2 separate regions of the Homo sapiens genome follow, and region 1 is linked to region 2. The links come from fine-mapping of genetic effects on gene expression. Tissue or cell type: blood mononuclear cells. Region 2 holds a variant in brackets; the other region holds the start of a gene. All regions are shown on one strand. Distances are between the middles of the regions.

The links. PIP is the estimated chance that this variant, and not a neighbour inherited with it, causes the effect.
Region 1: it holds the start of PTGER4, and the variant in region 2 is fine-mapped to the expression of PTGER4 in blood mononuclear cells (TOPMed, PIP above 0.99).

The regions. Positions count from the first base shown.
Region 1 is chr5:40,675,435-40,683,434 of GRCh38, reverse strand. It overlaps PTGER4 (prostaglandin E receptor 4), which reads right to left and starts at 3,520. Exons shown (of 3, transcript NM_000958.3): 1 at 2,957-3,520; 2 at 1,575-2,484. The coding sequence starts at 2,441. RefSeq lists an enhancer at 1,975-2,502 and a silencer at 3,638-3,857.
Region 2 is chr5:40,352,518-40,360,782 of GRCh38, reverse strand. No RefSeq gene overlaps it. Among named protein-coding and RNA genes, the nearest start is that of LINC00604, 120 kb to the right of the region's middle. The variant A/G (reference allele first, on the strand shown) is at 5,049.

The sequences.
Region 1 (8,000 bases), 320 kb before region 2:
ATTACAGACAGTAAAATATATTTATGTGGCTCAAGTGTGACTTAACTCTGTAAATTATATTGGGTCCTGGAATGGCTTAAAGGCTCTTATGGCCTATTATATTTACTTCTGTTTATACAAATTGGTAAGAACCTACTGTATTCTGGCTCTGAGCCCCCTCTAAGTTCCTTCCATTTACAGTCACTTTTATCAAAGATATATTTTTACACCAAAGATCCCTGGACAGTATCAATAAGGAAAAGGAAGGAATAATAGCCCATTACATTTTATATTCTCTTGTTCCCAACAAGCATAAGAAAAAGCAGTTATCTCTTTTTGAGTTGGTAGTTTAGAATTTCCAGGAATGCAGTGTTTTGGAAGATGGAAGAACTCATAACTAGTTGCTTTCAAGAGAAACTCTAGATAAAGTATTGCATTATTCTGCCCATCTGCTTCTGGTGCATTCCATTTTAGCCACAGGCAAAGTAGAAAACTAGGTAGGGTTTGAGCCTTTCTGTTTATCATATTTTAAAAGTTAATCCAAAGGCAATTCTTAAAAGATGAACTAAAAATGAAGTGTACCAAAACTCCAACCCACGCTTTACAAACGCCAAAATGAGAAATGTTCTACGAGGGAGACGTGATGTAATAACACATGAGCTGGGTCTGGCCTCAGACGGCCTAAGGTCCATTACAAGCTGTAGAGCTTTGGCTTGAAGAAACAAAGACAGCCATCTCTAAACCTCGGTTTCTCTAAAATGGTACTGTACCTCGCACAGTTGTCGAGAATTCAAATCCCATACCCTATGTATATCAGCCTGTCCATAATTAGTCACCCTGAGAAACTTTGCTTTCCTGGTCTAGACAGAATGAAAGAAACTGAGTCTGGACCCTGCCCTGTATATGAATTAGAATTTGTGTGCTTTAAGCTGCCCTCCCAGGGCACACCATGGTAAAGAGCAGGGAGCCTAGCTTGACTGTGTAGGTTCGGCTGGATTATTTTAAGCGTATCATTCACTCCCTCAGTGAAGTGAGGGAGTTAGACTAAAACACCTCTTGATATCTCTTCTAGCTTTAAAATTCTACGCAATCCACGGGGGAAGAAATTCAAGAAACCTTGCATACATCAAAACACCAAAAACCCCACTTTCCTTAAAAATGGTTTACAACGAACAGATCACCATCCCTGACATTTCAGGTTTTGCAGTTCACAGTTCACAGTACGGAGGAATGGGCTAAGTCACACTACAGCAGGCTCCCCTCCACGTCTAACAGAGGGGGCGGGGGGTTTTCTTGGAAGACTCGGCCAGTGTCAGGCAGCAAGGGGTAAGGGCTGTCTCGGTGGAGAAAGAAACCCAGGCTTCCGGGAACATAAACTGGGGGATGTAGGGGCAAAGCACCTGCTAAATCTCGTTAGGGTTGGGACTTCAAAGAGGGTTGGGCCTGCTCTGAGAAACAGTGTGGGAATCCCAGCCCCGACCTAAAGGCGACACGTTCACTGCCAAGGACTCAGAGGGAAAGCAGGGAGCGGGGAATGGACGCGGGAGGTGGATGCGAGAAAAAGGCCGAGTAGGGCCCCAGCCCCGGTCACTCACCACGAGCGGGATGGAGCAGATGAGCACCACCAGGGAGGTGGCAATGAGTAAGATGACCATCTGGATCTCGGCGCCCGCGATGCGGCGGAAGCTCCGGCGGCGCCGAAAGTCGCTGAGGCGCGGCAAGGCTGGGGAGGCAGCGGGGTGGCCCCGGGAGGCAACCGAGGCGGCCGCGGCCGCGTGGTGCTGCTCGGTGCCCAGCGAGGTGCGGCGCATGAACTGGCGGTGCATGCGGAGCAGCGCGCCGCACACAAGCACGTTGCAGAGGACGGTGGCGAGAATGAGGAAGGAGCTGAAGCCCGCGTACATGTAGGAGTAGGCGGCGTGCGCCGTCACGTTGGTGGTCCAGTCGATGAAGCACCAGGTGTCTGGGTACTGCAGCCGCGAGCTACCGAGACCCATGTTGGGCAGCGCGCAAAAGAGCACGTTGGACGCATAGACTGCAAAGAGCGTGAGGCCCGCCAATCGCTTGTCCACGTAGTGGCTGTAGAAATAGGCATGGTTGATGGCCAGGTAGCGCTCGACACTCATGGCGCAGATGATGCTGAGGCCGGACAGGCTGAAGAAGAGCAGAATGAAGGTGCTGTACTCGCACAGCGGCTGGCCCCCGGGCCATTGGCCCTTCATGTACGTGGCGATGGTCACCGGGCTCACCAACAAAGTGCCCAACAGGTCGGTGACAGCCAGCCCACATACCAGCGTGTAGAAGGTCGTCTCCTTCTGCTCCTTGCGCGACTTGCACAGCACCACGATGGCCACCAGGTTGCCCACCACCCCGAAGATGAACATCACCGCCGGGATGGTCACTGGGCTGTTCAGCCGGTCGGGGCTCAAGGAGGCGGACGAATTGACCCCGGGAGTGGACATGATAGTGGCTGGCGGTGCGCAGCCTTGGAGTGCAAGGCTGGGTCTGGGGATGGTAGAAGAGAGACAAAGCTGCCGTGAGCGGAAATTACCACTTGTAAGGTGTTAGACCCGCGCCCGAGAAACGATACACTGATAAGACAAGGGGAGCAACTCGATCCTACTTTCTGGATTGTAGCCACTTACCAACTGCGGCCACCAAAATCTCCAGGCTCGCGATACGTCCTGCCAACAGCACACTCTTGCTGACATTAATATTTATAAACTGATTTTCCCATTCCTCTTCCTCCCCACAATCCAACTCACTCCATTGCCAAGATGAATAAGACCCATCTCAAGGGAAAAGTAGCTCGCTAGTGCTATTCTCGATAGATTCTGAATCAATAAAATGCTCACTGAAAACAAGTTACAAAAGCAATTTGGAGAGCGCGCTCTTCCCTTCTTGGCTCTCTTCGGCGAGGGCCGCATCCCTGCGTTCTCTACCCGTTGACCCCAACGTCAGCCCAACGCCATCTCACCTGTAGCGGCAGCAGCGGTGGCAGCCTCACGAGCCCCCAGGGTCAGCCCTCAGATGTCCTGGACCCGCCTCCAACCTGCTTTCACCTTGTCCTGCTCAGTCTGGAAACTGCCAAATCTTCGGCTTCTCAAAGCCGGTCTCAGTGGCTGTCGATTTTTGGACACCGAGGTCAGAGTTGCCAGCTTTCAAAAACTTGGGAAACAAGAGGTGCAGCGGGATGGGTCAGTGAAGAATGGTGCTGGATTTCTTACTCGCTATTTTTTTTCCTTCAAAGACGAGTCCCAGCTTTGCAGTGCCCGCCGGTCTCGTCTGCGGGAGGACAGCGTTCAGGTGTGAGGCTGTGCGCGCAGGTGGCGCGGAGCCTTGGTCCCCAGCTCTGGCTGCCCTCCGCCCCAGCCACGGGCAGCACGGGCGGCTACTGGAGTTTGCGGCTGCCGCTGAGGCCGCTCCTGGCTACCTGGGGGCGGCTCGGGGTCCACTCTGCCAGAGGCTCTGGCCTGGGGCTGTTCATCTTCCTCTCGGGCTGCCGGGCTTGGAGCTCCGCTCTCGCCTTTCCACCCTCTGTACAAACTTTTCTCCTCCTCCAAGTTTCCCTGGCGGAGGCGGAGGCAAACCGCGCGCTGCCCGGGCGCCCATTGGCCGGATTGGAAGGGGGCGGAGCGCGTCCTCCCTGGGCGCCGCAGGGAAGACTGGCGGGGGGCGGTGTCTGGGCTGGGGCGGGGCTGGGCGCGCGGGGTGGGGCGGCTCCCGTGGTTTTCACGCCCTCGGAGGTGCGGAGTGGGAACTCGGAGGGGACCCTGGGAAGCCCCGGTGCTTTCCCCGGCGACCGCTTAGCCGCTCCTGAACTCGGCTTCCAGTGGGGCCACCACTGAAACCGGCGACCGTTTCCGCCTCGCTGCCTGCCGCTCGGAGTGTACTATTTCTTGAACCTCCTGTCCGCGGGCCGCAACATCTAGATCGTGGAAGAGAGGGCAGTTGTTTTAGGATTCTACCTAGGGTTGGCCGAGAAAGGAGAAGAAATACGGTGTCTGCGCTAGCGCGTGCGCCCCGGGGTTAGACTTGGGTGCGCCCAGCGGACGTGGTAGGTGGGTGGGTGGGTGGGTACCAGATTGGGCGGGGAAATAACGAAGAATCCATCCTCTCACCATAAAAGGAGTTGGAGTCAGTTGGCAGTGCCCAGACTGCGGGCTGCGCTTGGTCGGGCACCCCAGGCAAAAAAGAAAAAAAAAAAAGAGAAAGAAAGAGGAGGAGACAGTGATTGCAGCCTCTCCCGGCGCAGGTGGCAGAGCCTTGCGGCTTTGGAGAGAGGTGGAGCCTTGGTGAGGTTGGGAGGACTGCCTAACTGCGATCTTTTTCTCCATTCTTCCTCCTGGGAACTTCTCCGCCCTGAAAGGGTAGCGTGAGCTTCATGCCTTCGGCCGGCCGTGTTATACTCGTTAGACCCAATTCACCATGAATCCTTTGAAAGACTAGTGGAGAGTGAGAAGGGGGTTTCAAAGTCACTGGAGTAAAGGAATTCTCCAAGCACCACCTCATGATTAATTCTTGGAAAAGCCTGTTTGCGCGGCCCTTAGAATCATTTTGACTTCTTGTCTAATGGTGAAGTTTTTCTCTGTAATCCTTCTACTCTGTTTTCTAAAACCAGAACTAAAAACCTAAAAAATTGTAAAACTTCATGGTGTAATTAAAACCCCTTCACCATTTTTTTTAAGTAAGATTGTGTGGCCTTATTGCACAATTTAAATTCCTGGAAAAACCTCTTCCCATCTGCAGTGTACAAGCATTCTAACATATTATGTCTCCTCACAGGGTAAGTAAATAACTGGATTCTTTTATGTGATAAGCAGGTACCCATTTCTTAAATGTTATTTCGTGAACGAACAAACCTCCTAACTGGTTCTTCAGTTAGTCTCAGCAACACATGGGTAATAAGAGAAACTAAAAGGGCTTTCCGATTTCAAGTAATTACAGGTCATAAAATATCCAGAATCATATTTACTTGCAAAAGGCACTATATGGATATACTAATAAAGAATTATTCTGTTTATACTATTTACTTAATAATATGAGAAAGAAAAATACACATTTGTTAGCCAATATTAAGATTGATGGTGATTGGTCATTTTCTTAAAAATCTTCTTTTAATCAGTACTCTAATCACTTCTGTTGTCGATGCTTCCTTTGAACAGTAACCTCTAGGATTGTGTCAGCACAGAAAACAAATCAACATTAGAAAAAAGGAAACTGCACACTCTGCGCCATTCCTCACTAACCACATTGCTTTGCTATCACTCATGTCAGTTGCTTGTCAGTAAATATATGGAGGGGAGGTTGGGAAGTCCCTTATATTCACTTTCTGCTAATACAAATTTTTTTTTTCAATTTTCTTTCCATATGAAGCTTGTAAAAGAGAAAACAATTGGTTGCTATTTATTAATTTAAGAATGATGAAGAATATATTAAATATAAAAACTGAGACACACTGCTGAGATAATTAGTAACTGTTACAGGTATTAGCATGTCATTGACAAACCAGACTTGTTATCAATTGAGCTATTTTTCTTACTAGTCCTTTGAATTTTCTTTCTACAGTAGCTTTAGGAAGAAGGAAAATAAATAACCTAATGCTCAATACTAAAAAATTGTAATGAGGTTTATCTGTAGTCTCTTTTGTTGTACGATTCTTAAAACTTAAATTTAGCTTTCAAAAGTAGAAGTTGAAAGTTTAGGTAGCAAATTATTTTATTTTCTTAGTTTGAAAAACTGGGACAGTGGAGCTCAGTTTCTCTTACACTCTGCCAGGAATTTGCATTGCAAAAGGAAAGGAAAAATTGCCATAATTATGTGGGCAATTCTTGTCATTTTTTTTCAATGAAAAGATTTTTATTCTAAGCACTTTAAAAATTCTCCCTCGCAGTTTCTGCCACAATCCCTACTTCTCTATGCTGGAAGACCCCAGTTCAGTTATTTAAAACTGTCATTAAATAACTCTCTGAAGGTTTGAACTACTCCAAGAACTGTTTGATCAGTTTGATTGCTCTGTTATAGCTAATTATTTGACGAGTTTTTTGAGTAAACATATTAAGGTGGGAACCCATTTATAAACAAAGGCCGCTTGGGAGCTAGTAACCACTTTTAGTTTTCCTTGGATCAAAGGAAATATGGGACAGACAGGACCTGGGCTCAGCCAGCAGGAGTGGGGTGAGAAAGGGGATCATTTCCAGGAGGAAGGCAGCAGGATGAGTCAGATCTGGCCTGGACCCCTTCCTGAGCCGCAGCTGGCAGGATCTTAGAGCATTCCTGAAGCACTAATATTCATGTAGCAAAGCCTGTGCAAATTGTGTTTGCTTTTCTCTTTCATGACAGGCCATGCAGAGACTCAAAACAGTGTGAAAGGCATCTATCAGGTACAAATAGCAAAGTACCCTTGGACACATTTGCCCTCCACAGGCTCTTCCAGTTGGTTTAGTGGATTACAAACATGGCATTCACCTGACCCTAAGATGACTGCCTTCCCTTTTTAGTGGTACATTTCAAATGTGTGCCCTCTTAATTATTTTCATTTTCTAAGCATGAAGTTTATGCTGAGCCCAATGCCTGGAGCTGACACATGTCAGTGCTGTGATTAACTCCCCAACATCTTCATGTGGTGATAAATTACTGCTGTGGAGGCTGGCCCCTACTGAGTGATTGCTTCAGGCTGCTCTGACAGCCTGCTCTGACAATTACACTCCTCAAAGTAATAGCTTTCTGCTCTTTTATTCTGCTCGCTCCCTTTTTTTCCCTCCAGTTTCACCACACGCCCATGTGGATTGGACCAATGGGCAAAGAAAGGAGATTATTTACCTGCAGTGGCCTTTTTTTTTTTTTTTTTTGAGACAGATTCTCGCTCTGTCGCCCAGGCTGGAGTGCAGTGGTGCAACTTGGCTCACTGCAACCTCCGCCTCCTGGATTCAAGCAATTCTCCTGTCTCAGCCTCCCTAGTAGCTGAGATTACAGGCATGTGCCACCTTGCCTGGCTAATTTTGTATTTTTAGTAGAGATGGGGTTTCACCATATTGGCCAGGCTGGTCTCGAACTCCTGACCTTGTGATCCACCCCCTTCGGCTTCCCAAAGTGCTGGGATTACAGGCGTGAGTCACCGCTCCCAGAGTGGCCCATTTTTGAAGATACAAGTGGAGAAATAAAGCCTTACTAGTTAAAGAGTCTCCCCTACAGGAGGAAGGACCTTCTGATTATATTTCGGTTTCTTCTCATACCCAAATTGCTGTATGTTTTAGCAATGTGGAGGATGCACAGAAACTCCCTGGCTTAATCAATAGCAGCAGCATCACCTGTAGCTCATGTTAGTTTATCACTTTCCATAGCAGTTTCACACTTGGCGTTCACATGCGCTTTTATTAGCAACCCTCTGAGGAGGTTAGGTAGGTGTGACAGAGTCTGCTGTGTTGCACCAAATCTTGTTTCCATTTCCTCTGGAACACATAGCTGCGTATTATTTCCCAAACTGACTTCTTGTGGTTAGGTGCAGCTCATGTGACTGAATTCTGGCCAATGGAATAGAGGTAGAATTGATATATGCCACTTCCAGGCTGGGTCCCTATAAAACCCAGTCCTTTGTGCTATTGTTCGTCCTCTGCCAACATAATACAGGTCCCGGGTATATGGCAGAGCCACTAGATAGAAGGTGACTTGGCCTCTGAGTGCCTGTATGGACCTCATTCCAATCCCAGCAACCCTCACTGGACAATGAAGTGAATGAGAAATAATGCACTGAGATTTGAGGGGTCCCTTGTTTCAGCAGTTAGCCTATGCTGACTAATTTAGTATGGTTGATGTAATCTTCCTTCAGTGAGTGAGAATGTGGGCACAGAGATTCTATGTGGCTTGCTGAGAGTCACAAGAATTAGTAAGAATAGCTGAAATTTATCCAATGCTCAGCCTATGTGAGACATCATGCTAACTGCAACATGCATACGCTGTCAAATTCTCACAGCAAACCTATGAGGAAGGTACTAGGCAGTCAGATGCCCATTTCACAGATG
Region 2 (8,265 bases):
GACTGGCAATTAGCAGTCCCTAAAACTTTTTGTTTTTATCCTTTCCAGGAAAAAGTCCTTCAAATTTCTTGGGCAGAGTTAATAGTTCTGAAGAACAAACTGGGAAAGGGAAAGGAGAAGGAATCTAGTAGAAATCTAGCTGCTTCAGAAACAGCTTTTCTCACTCTTTTTCATGGAGTCACTTTTCCCTAAATTACAAGTCTAGAGTTAATTGGGTGTTGGTAGTTCCAGAATCTTTGGAAGACTCTGTGGTGGAATGGATTTTGTTATTAGTTTTTCAGCCAATTTTTATTCATCTTTCACAGGTTTCACAAGTCACTGACACTGGTTATCTGCTTTTCAGGTTTCAAAGACCTGTCACTGTTGTCTCCCCTGCTGCTCTCTTCATCTTTGTGGATTAAAAGGTTTTTTGGGGCTTGTAATTTTGGCAGCGTTTCTGGAGTGAATAAATTCTGGGCGTGTGTTTAATCTGCCATCATAATCTTTATAGATGTTATACTACAGTCTTCTTTAAGTGTCTGTTATTTTATGATGAATTTTCTTTCATTATGATTTGCATTCTATATTACTTTCTTCAATCATTTTAAACATACTGATTATATAGGTTTTTTCTTTTTTCAGATCATAGAATCATCCAGTTGTTGAAATGAGACTTCATCGATGTGAAACCATTTCTTTGTGTGGTCTGTAATTTTTTGGACTGTGAGCTTCTGTCATTATCCACCACATCCTCTCCCTACCCTCCCTCCTATGGGAGTTGCTTGTCTTGTGCATGGCAGAAATTTTGCAGGGTAGTTTTGAATTTCCATCTGCATCTTACCCACTCAAGACAAGTTTTTTAATGTTAATTTCTTAGCTTGAGGATTCTTGTTCTCGACAAGCATGTAAATTCTGATTTCATATGTGCATGTTTTGGAGGCATGGGTCTCACTTTCTCATGGTAGCATTTTCTTTTTCTTATTTCCATTCAGAGAAATTCTTTCTGTTTCCCTAGGCTAGTGGGGCTTCTTCCACTGAAAAGACCATTATTTCAGTCTCTTACTTTAGGCAGAGTAGCCAGTGCAGCCCCTACTTGGCAGAGACTCAACACCATGTTATTTCTTCAGAAGCAGACACTGACATGAAAATTTATATGAAAAGAACATAGTTAGTGTTCGCTGGAAAAATTGGGGTGTGAAGAAATGGGAGTGGAAAGAAAATTTGGCCAAGCAAGGGCATAGTATCAAAGTTCTGCTAAGAAAACTTTGGCTCAGTTTTGAAGTGCAGATTCAAAGGTCACACCTTAGATCCCTCCTCCATAGAGGGAAGGGAGTAGGGGTAGCTACAGATTAATCTGTAGTTAAAGGCTTCCCCAGGAGTGATATAAATATCCAGGAGATTCCAACTTTACATCAGTTCTCAAAGGGGATCTAGCAGTCTGAGGCCACCTCGCAAATTAAGAGATACAGGTGCTGACTGTTGTAGGGGATAGTACACAGGGAGGATGAGTGCAAGAGTTGGTAAAGAATCCAAAGAAATGTGGGTAGAGCAATGGCATTTCCTGTTGCCTCCTATCACCACTGTCTGAAGCTATGTTCCAACTCTGCTCCCTCACTACCACTGCTGGCATGGGGGAATATGTCCCCTTCTCCCCTTTTCTCTTTACAGTCCTTCTTTGGAAGAATTTTGGCATTGTCTTTCTTTTTTAAACTAAAAAGTTACAACAAGAGTGGCATCTTCCCCACTTTTATGAACATGAAAAGTGTGTCCACTTTAGCACATTCTGTCATAAGATCTGTAGTATGTACCACTTAAGCAGAAAAAATGACCACATTTCGCTGTGTGTAAAATGATGATGTAGGTGGAGGAAAGAAATAGTTTGGATACTCTAAAATTACATGCTAAGAAAGTCCTACAAAGAATTGTAGAATACAGGGATTTGGCCTTCAGGTAATGCATGTATTCTCTCCAGGTTCACATAGTTGAAGGCTGATTTTAAATTAGGTGCTAGTTTTATAAAATTGCAGACTGGGAATTTTTACGAAAATGGACTTGCAAACTTTACATTTTATTTTATTAGCAACATTTTGAGGAACTCAAAAAGATGATTTACCAAGTACAGTTTGCTCTAAAGAGTATAGTATACCTTCATAAGAGTAACAAGTATATATCTTAGGATATAGCAGATTTACATTCTCTCCTATTATCTATTATTTTACTTGCTAAAATGTAATAGTAATCTGAGAGATGCAGGTGAGATAGATAAGTAAAATAACACAGACATGAAATCCAGATTCTTATTATTATGTATGACTTTTCTTTTGCAGGGTTTGATGTGATTTTTAAGGATGTGCAGGAAGAGACATGCTGCGTGTGTGTGTGTGTGTGTGCGTGTGTGTGTGTGTATGTGAATGCTTGCTATATTCACAGATATATTTGAATAAATTATATGGTCCCTTAGAAGTTTGTCTTGGGGCTGGGCGCAGTGGCTCACGCCTGTAATCCCAGCACTTTGGGAGGCCGAGTCAGGTGGATCAGGAGGTCGGGAGTTTGAGACCAGCCTGACCAACATGGTGAAACCTCATCTCTACTAAAAATACAAAAATTAGCCAGGCGTTGTGGCACATGCCTGTAATCCCAGCTACTTAGGAGGCTGAGGCAGGAGAATCACTTGAACCCAGGAGGTGGAGGTTGCCATGAGCCGAGATTGTGCCACTGCATTCCACAGCCTGGGTGACAGAGCAAGACTCCTTCTCAAAAAAAAAAAAAAAAAATGTCTGGCGAGCCCTAGGGTTTAAAACAAAAGATTATTTTCTTCAGTAAGCACTTTTAAATGTGTACCTTCTCCCCAAAAAGAATAACAAATGAAAACTGAAAAGCATAAAACAAATAAGATAAATGGATGAACATGTAATGAGTGTTAAACTCCGGAGTTGGACCTGAGAGGGCTTTTGCTTTCCATTTCTAGTTCTGGCACCTTCCTCAAGCTCCATAGCTCTCTTAAGCTGCAGGCTTTTTGTCTTTAAAATGTGTGTATAATTCATATCCACTTCTTGGGGTATGGTGAGGACCAGCTGGCATAATGAATGATGCCTACCACAGCGCCCACCTCCTAGTCAGAACTCAGTAAATGGTAGTGACTATAATTATTATTGCATCATTGGCATCAGACTAAAAATAATGTCCTACAGAATATATATTTCTGCTAGCTACTTTAAATCCTTAACTTCACATTCACATAGTATTGTAACAACAAATTTGAATAATATATCCTATTTTCCTTTCCTTTCTCTCCCTCCCTCCTTTTTTTCCTTCCTTCCCTCCCTCTTGTTTCTCTCTCATAAGACTGTGTGTTGCACTCAGATTCAGAGTCATATTAAAATGCTCCTTCACTGCAGTCATATGTATTATTAAATCAGGAAATACAGTCTTTCTAAAACTCCATTAGAAATTCACGGAAGCCTCTCCAGGTTAAACACCAGTTTCAGCTTGACCTCTTTTAGAAAACACTGCACTGGTACTTTAAAGCAAAACTGTTTCCTCTATTTCAAGAAAAGCAAAGGCAAATTATTTTCTAATTCGAGACACCATGGCGCTCTGTGAATTTAGCCTATTATTTTGTTGTAAACCTAAGCTAAAGCACATACTTAGTTTGACATCATTAAGTAAATCATAAATTTAAGGCAAGCAAGCCAACAAACACACAAACAAATATAACCAGAAGATTCGCATTACCAAGTAAAATTGCTAATTTTCTGATATAAACTGGGCTAACAACATTCTCTTCATTTAAATCATGGACAAATTCTGCATGGGTTGAGTTATTATTCCTAATTAATTTTATTATGTAAAGGTTAACAACAGACAGGCCAGTGCTGTTCTATTGTTAAGCTTATGAAGTGTTTAAAATCATATTTCCAAAGAACACTTGAAAATCAGCCACTAGCCATTTTTCCTTGCAAATGGACATTTGTTGATGACTTTATTGTGAAAAATGATTCCTAGAATCTTTTTTTGGGTGATGAGGGGGAAGAAGGAGTCTCACTTTGTTCCTCAGGCTGGAGTGCAGTGGCATGATCACAAAAATGTGCCTTATAATAGAATTTTCCTAAAAAACCAAGTATTAACATTTCTCTACTTTTCTTAAGCCCCGCAGATTTGAAAAAAAAAAAAAACTGATTAACAAGGGCAAACTGCCTTTTGGATCAGGCTATACTAAATAGGAAATAGACCTAGTCTTCTAAGAATTGGGAGAAGACATACCAGTGATATATGCAGTGTTTGAACACTTCTGCAATTTGTGATCTTATTGCAAAAGCACCCAGACTCACAGTTTACTAGAGGTCAGTAAGCTTGGACTGTTGTTGATTGGGGATTGTTCTTGAGTCGACCTCTTTTGTCATACTGTCAGAAGCATTTAAACCAGAAAAACTCCATCTTGAATAGGGGCTGGGTAAAATTAGGCTGAGACCTATTGGGTTGTATTCCCAGGAGGTTAGGCACAAGCTACAGATCACTCTAAGTCACAGGATAACATAGGAGGTCAGCACAAGATGTTGCTGATAAAACAGGTTACAGTAAAGAAGCTGGCCAAAACCCACCAAAACCAAGATGGTGACAAGAGTAACCTGTAGTTGTCCTCACTGCTCGTTATATGCTAATTATAATGCATTAGCATGGTAGAAGACACTCCCACCAGTGCCATGACAGTTCACAAATGCCATGGGAACGTCAGGAAGTAAGTTATCCCATACGGTCTAAAAAGGGAAGGAACCCTCAGTTCTCAGAATCGCCCATCCCTTTCCCTGAAAACTCATGAATAATCCACCCCTTGTTTAGCATATAGCCAAGAAATAACCATAAAATGGGCAACCAGCAGCCCTTGGGGCTGCTCTGCCTGTGGAGTAACCAGTTTTTATTCCTTTATTTTCTTAATAAACTTGGTTTCACTTTACTCTATGGACTCTCCCCGAATTCTTTCTTGCACAAGATCCAAGAACCCTCTCTTGGGGTCTAAATTGGGACCACTTTCTGGTAACAATATGGAGATATTGATCTCATGGGCTTTT[A/G]TGAAGATTAAATAAGATGATATATTCAAAGTTCCTACACAATGCTTTCAATTGAATAAGTACTCAATAAATGAGGTTCCCTTTCCCCTTGACTCTTAGTCCATGTCAATGTTGGAAATTTAAATGAAAACCTCACAGGAGCCTTGGGGCATTGCTTTTCCGGCCAGAAACCTCTGTGGGTGGTGACACCTTTGCCCATGTTTTGCTCACGCATGCTGGGCTTGTTCCACCCACTTGGCCTGGCAGGCTGCACTTGGCTTGTGCTACCAGCCAGGATCCCCTGGCCTGCCAAGGGCAAGCCAGACACGAAGTGGTGAGGGGTGTGTGGGGTGTGTGAGTGAGTGAGCATGGGGTCCAGCCACAGTGCACAGCCAGGCACACCAGCTGTGGTGGGGTGGGCAGCTCCAGGCACTGGCATGGGTGCCAACTCCCTGAGAGGCTTTGGCTTGACCAAGCGTACTGCAAGCAGCTTCCATGGCTGGCACCGGGGAATGCAGTGTTGTCCCTAAGCTTGGAGATGCCAGGAACCACAGATCCCGAAGAGGGTGTCACAGCCTTCAGGGAGCCCATTGGTCTGGGCTCTCTGAAGGGCCATAAGTCTTCTCTCCTTCTCCCTCCTTTCCTTCTTGTCACCCCCAACATGGCAAGTAAGGGACGTGTTTCAGCCGTTTGTGTTACAGCTCTTTTAGCCCTACCATTTGGTGGGTCCTGAGTTCTTGTATTGTGTCCAGGAAGAATGAAGCATATGGACAAGTGGAGGGTGAGCAAGGTGAAAAGGTGCTTTATTGAGTGACAGAACAGCTCAGAGGAGACCTGCAGTAGGTAGCTCCTGTCCGCAGGCAGATCATCTTGACGAGTGTCCACCTCTCAGCAGAGAGGAGACCCACAGTCAGTAGCTCCTCTCCACAGGCAGGTTGTCCTGTCATCTGCCCAAGTCTGCCTGAATCTGGTGTTTTTATTGGCTTCAGAAGGTAGGAAATGCGTGCTGATTGGTCCATGGGTGGCCATGGGCAGGCTCCGAAAAAGCACTCTTAAGTTCTCACTCGGGTCTGTGGAGCTGGCAAACCAGCCCCCAGGCCTCAGGCCATCCCTGGCCTAAAAGTGGGGTTTTACTGAGGACCTGACTCTTTCTGCCCAGGAACCTGTCTGCCTCCTGCTGCCATTTACCTGCCATCCATGATGCCCATGGCACCCAGGCTGTTCATGCCAAGGGGTGCCTTAAGGCCCATGTTAAGTCACCCTTAGCACCCCCTTGGCCTCCCTCTTGTGCTTGTTGGCACCCAAAGTCCGGAGTGGGCCAAGGTGGCAGGGGGTTGACATGTCAGTTTGTCCTGAGTGTACACACACCCGGCCGACTCATGATAGTGCCTGGGCTCAGCCACAACTTTGCTTCAAAATCGGAGTGGGCACTGGGAGTGGGGAGAAGACAGGTAGCAGGAGCAGGCACTTTCAAGCCTTCCTGGGGAGGGGGGCTTCCTGAGTCCCCAGGAGTGCAGAGATGGCTGGGTTTGCAGCTGGGGCTGGGCAGTTGCAGCTGCGCCCAGGAAGGTGGGGCTCCCACCACTCCAACTTGGAATGGGGCGGGGATTCCACCTGTTCCTAGCTCCCACTGGCTCCATGGAGTGAGCAGCCCTGGCTGCAACTTCCCCACTGCAGCTGACATCATGGCAGTGGCCACTCCAGATGGGCTGCTGCTGCCATCAAAATGATATAAACTCGTGAATAATACAAGGTAGAAATTGATTACATGACTGATTCCTGATGCAGACAATAAAAACCGTGGAAGCGCTGAGAAGCCAGAGGTCACTGATGATGCCATAGTTATTTGATAATGAGACATGACCTGTCACTTTAGTGGAGCTACACTGCTTTTAGAACAAAAGCCAAATCCTACTATGACCTATTATGCTTGACTTCACCTGCCTCTACTCGTCCATTAGTCTCACTTCACAACATTCTGTCCTTACCCTCTGTGTATCCTAGCTATCCAAGTGAGAACATGAGATATTTGTCTTTTTGTGCCTGGTTTATTTCACTTAAGATAGTGACCTCCAGTTCCATCCATGTTATTGCAAATGACATTTTTTTAATGACTGAATATTACGTCATTGTCAATATTATGTCAATTAACACTTAGGTTAATTCCATATCTTTGCTATTGTGAATAGTGCTTCAATAGACATAGGAGTGCAGGTGTCACTCCATATGTTGATTTATTTTCCTTTGGGTAAATACCCAAAGGGAACCCTGTATCCTGGCCAATATTCGTTATTTTTGTATTTTTAATAATAGGCTTTCTAACTGGGGTAAAATATTATCTAATTGTGGTTTTGATTTGCATTTCTCCAATGATTAGTAGAGTTTTTTTAATGTATCTATTAGTTATTTGTACTTTTGAGAAATGTCTCTTCATGTCCATTGCATCCTTTTAATGGGATTTATTTTTTCCTGTTGACTTGTTTGAATTTCTTGTATATTCTGAATATTAGTCCATTCTTGGATACTTTGTAAATATTTTCTCCCATTCAAAAGGTTCTCTCTTCATTACTGATTATGTCTTTGTACAAAAGCTTTTCAGTTTAATTAATTTCCATTGTTCTATTGTTTTGTTGTTGTTGCCTGTGCTTTGGAGATATTAGTCATAAATTCTTTGCCTAGACCAATGTCCAGGAGAGTTTTCTTTAGATTTTCTTCTAGTACTTTTATAGTTTCAGGTCTTACATTTAAGTCTTTAATCTATCTTGGTTGATTTTTGTGTATGGTGAAAGATAAATATCCAGTTTCATTCTTCTGCATGTGGCTATTTAATTTTCCCAACAGCATTTATTGAAGAGAGTGTCTTTTGTCCAGTGTAAGTTCTTGTCAGTTTTATCAAATATCGGTTGGCTGTAAATATGTGGCTTTATTTTTGCGTGCTCTATTCTCTTCCATTGATCTATATGTCTATTTTTATACTAATAACATATTGTTTCAGTTACTATAGACTTTTAATGTGATACCTCTAGCTTTGTTCTTTTTGCTCAGGATTACATTATTTATTTGGGCTTTTTTGTTTCATATATTAATACATTTTAGAATTGTTTTTACTAAGTCTGTGAATGACATTGGTATTTTCATAGGAATTGTATTGAATATGTAGATTGCTTTGGGCAACATAGTCATATTAACAATATAAACTCTTCCAATCCATAAACATGGGATGTTTTTCCATTTGTTT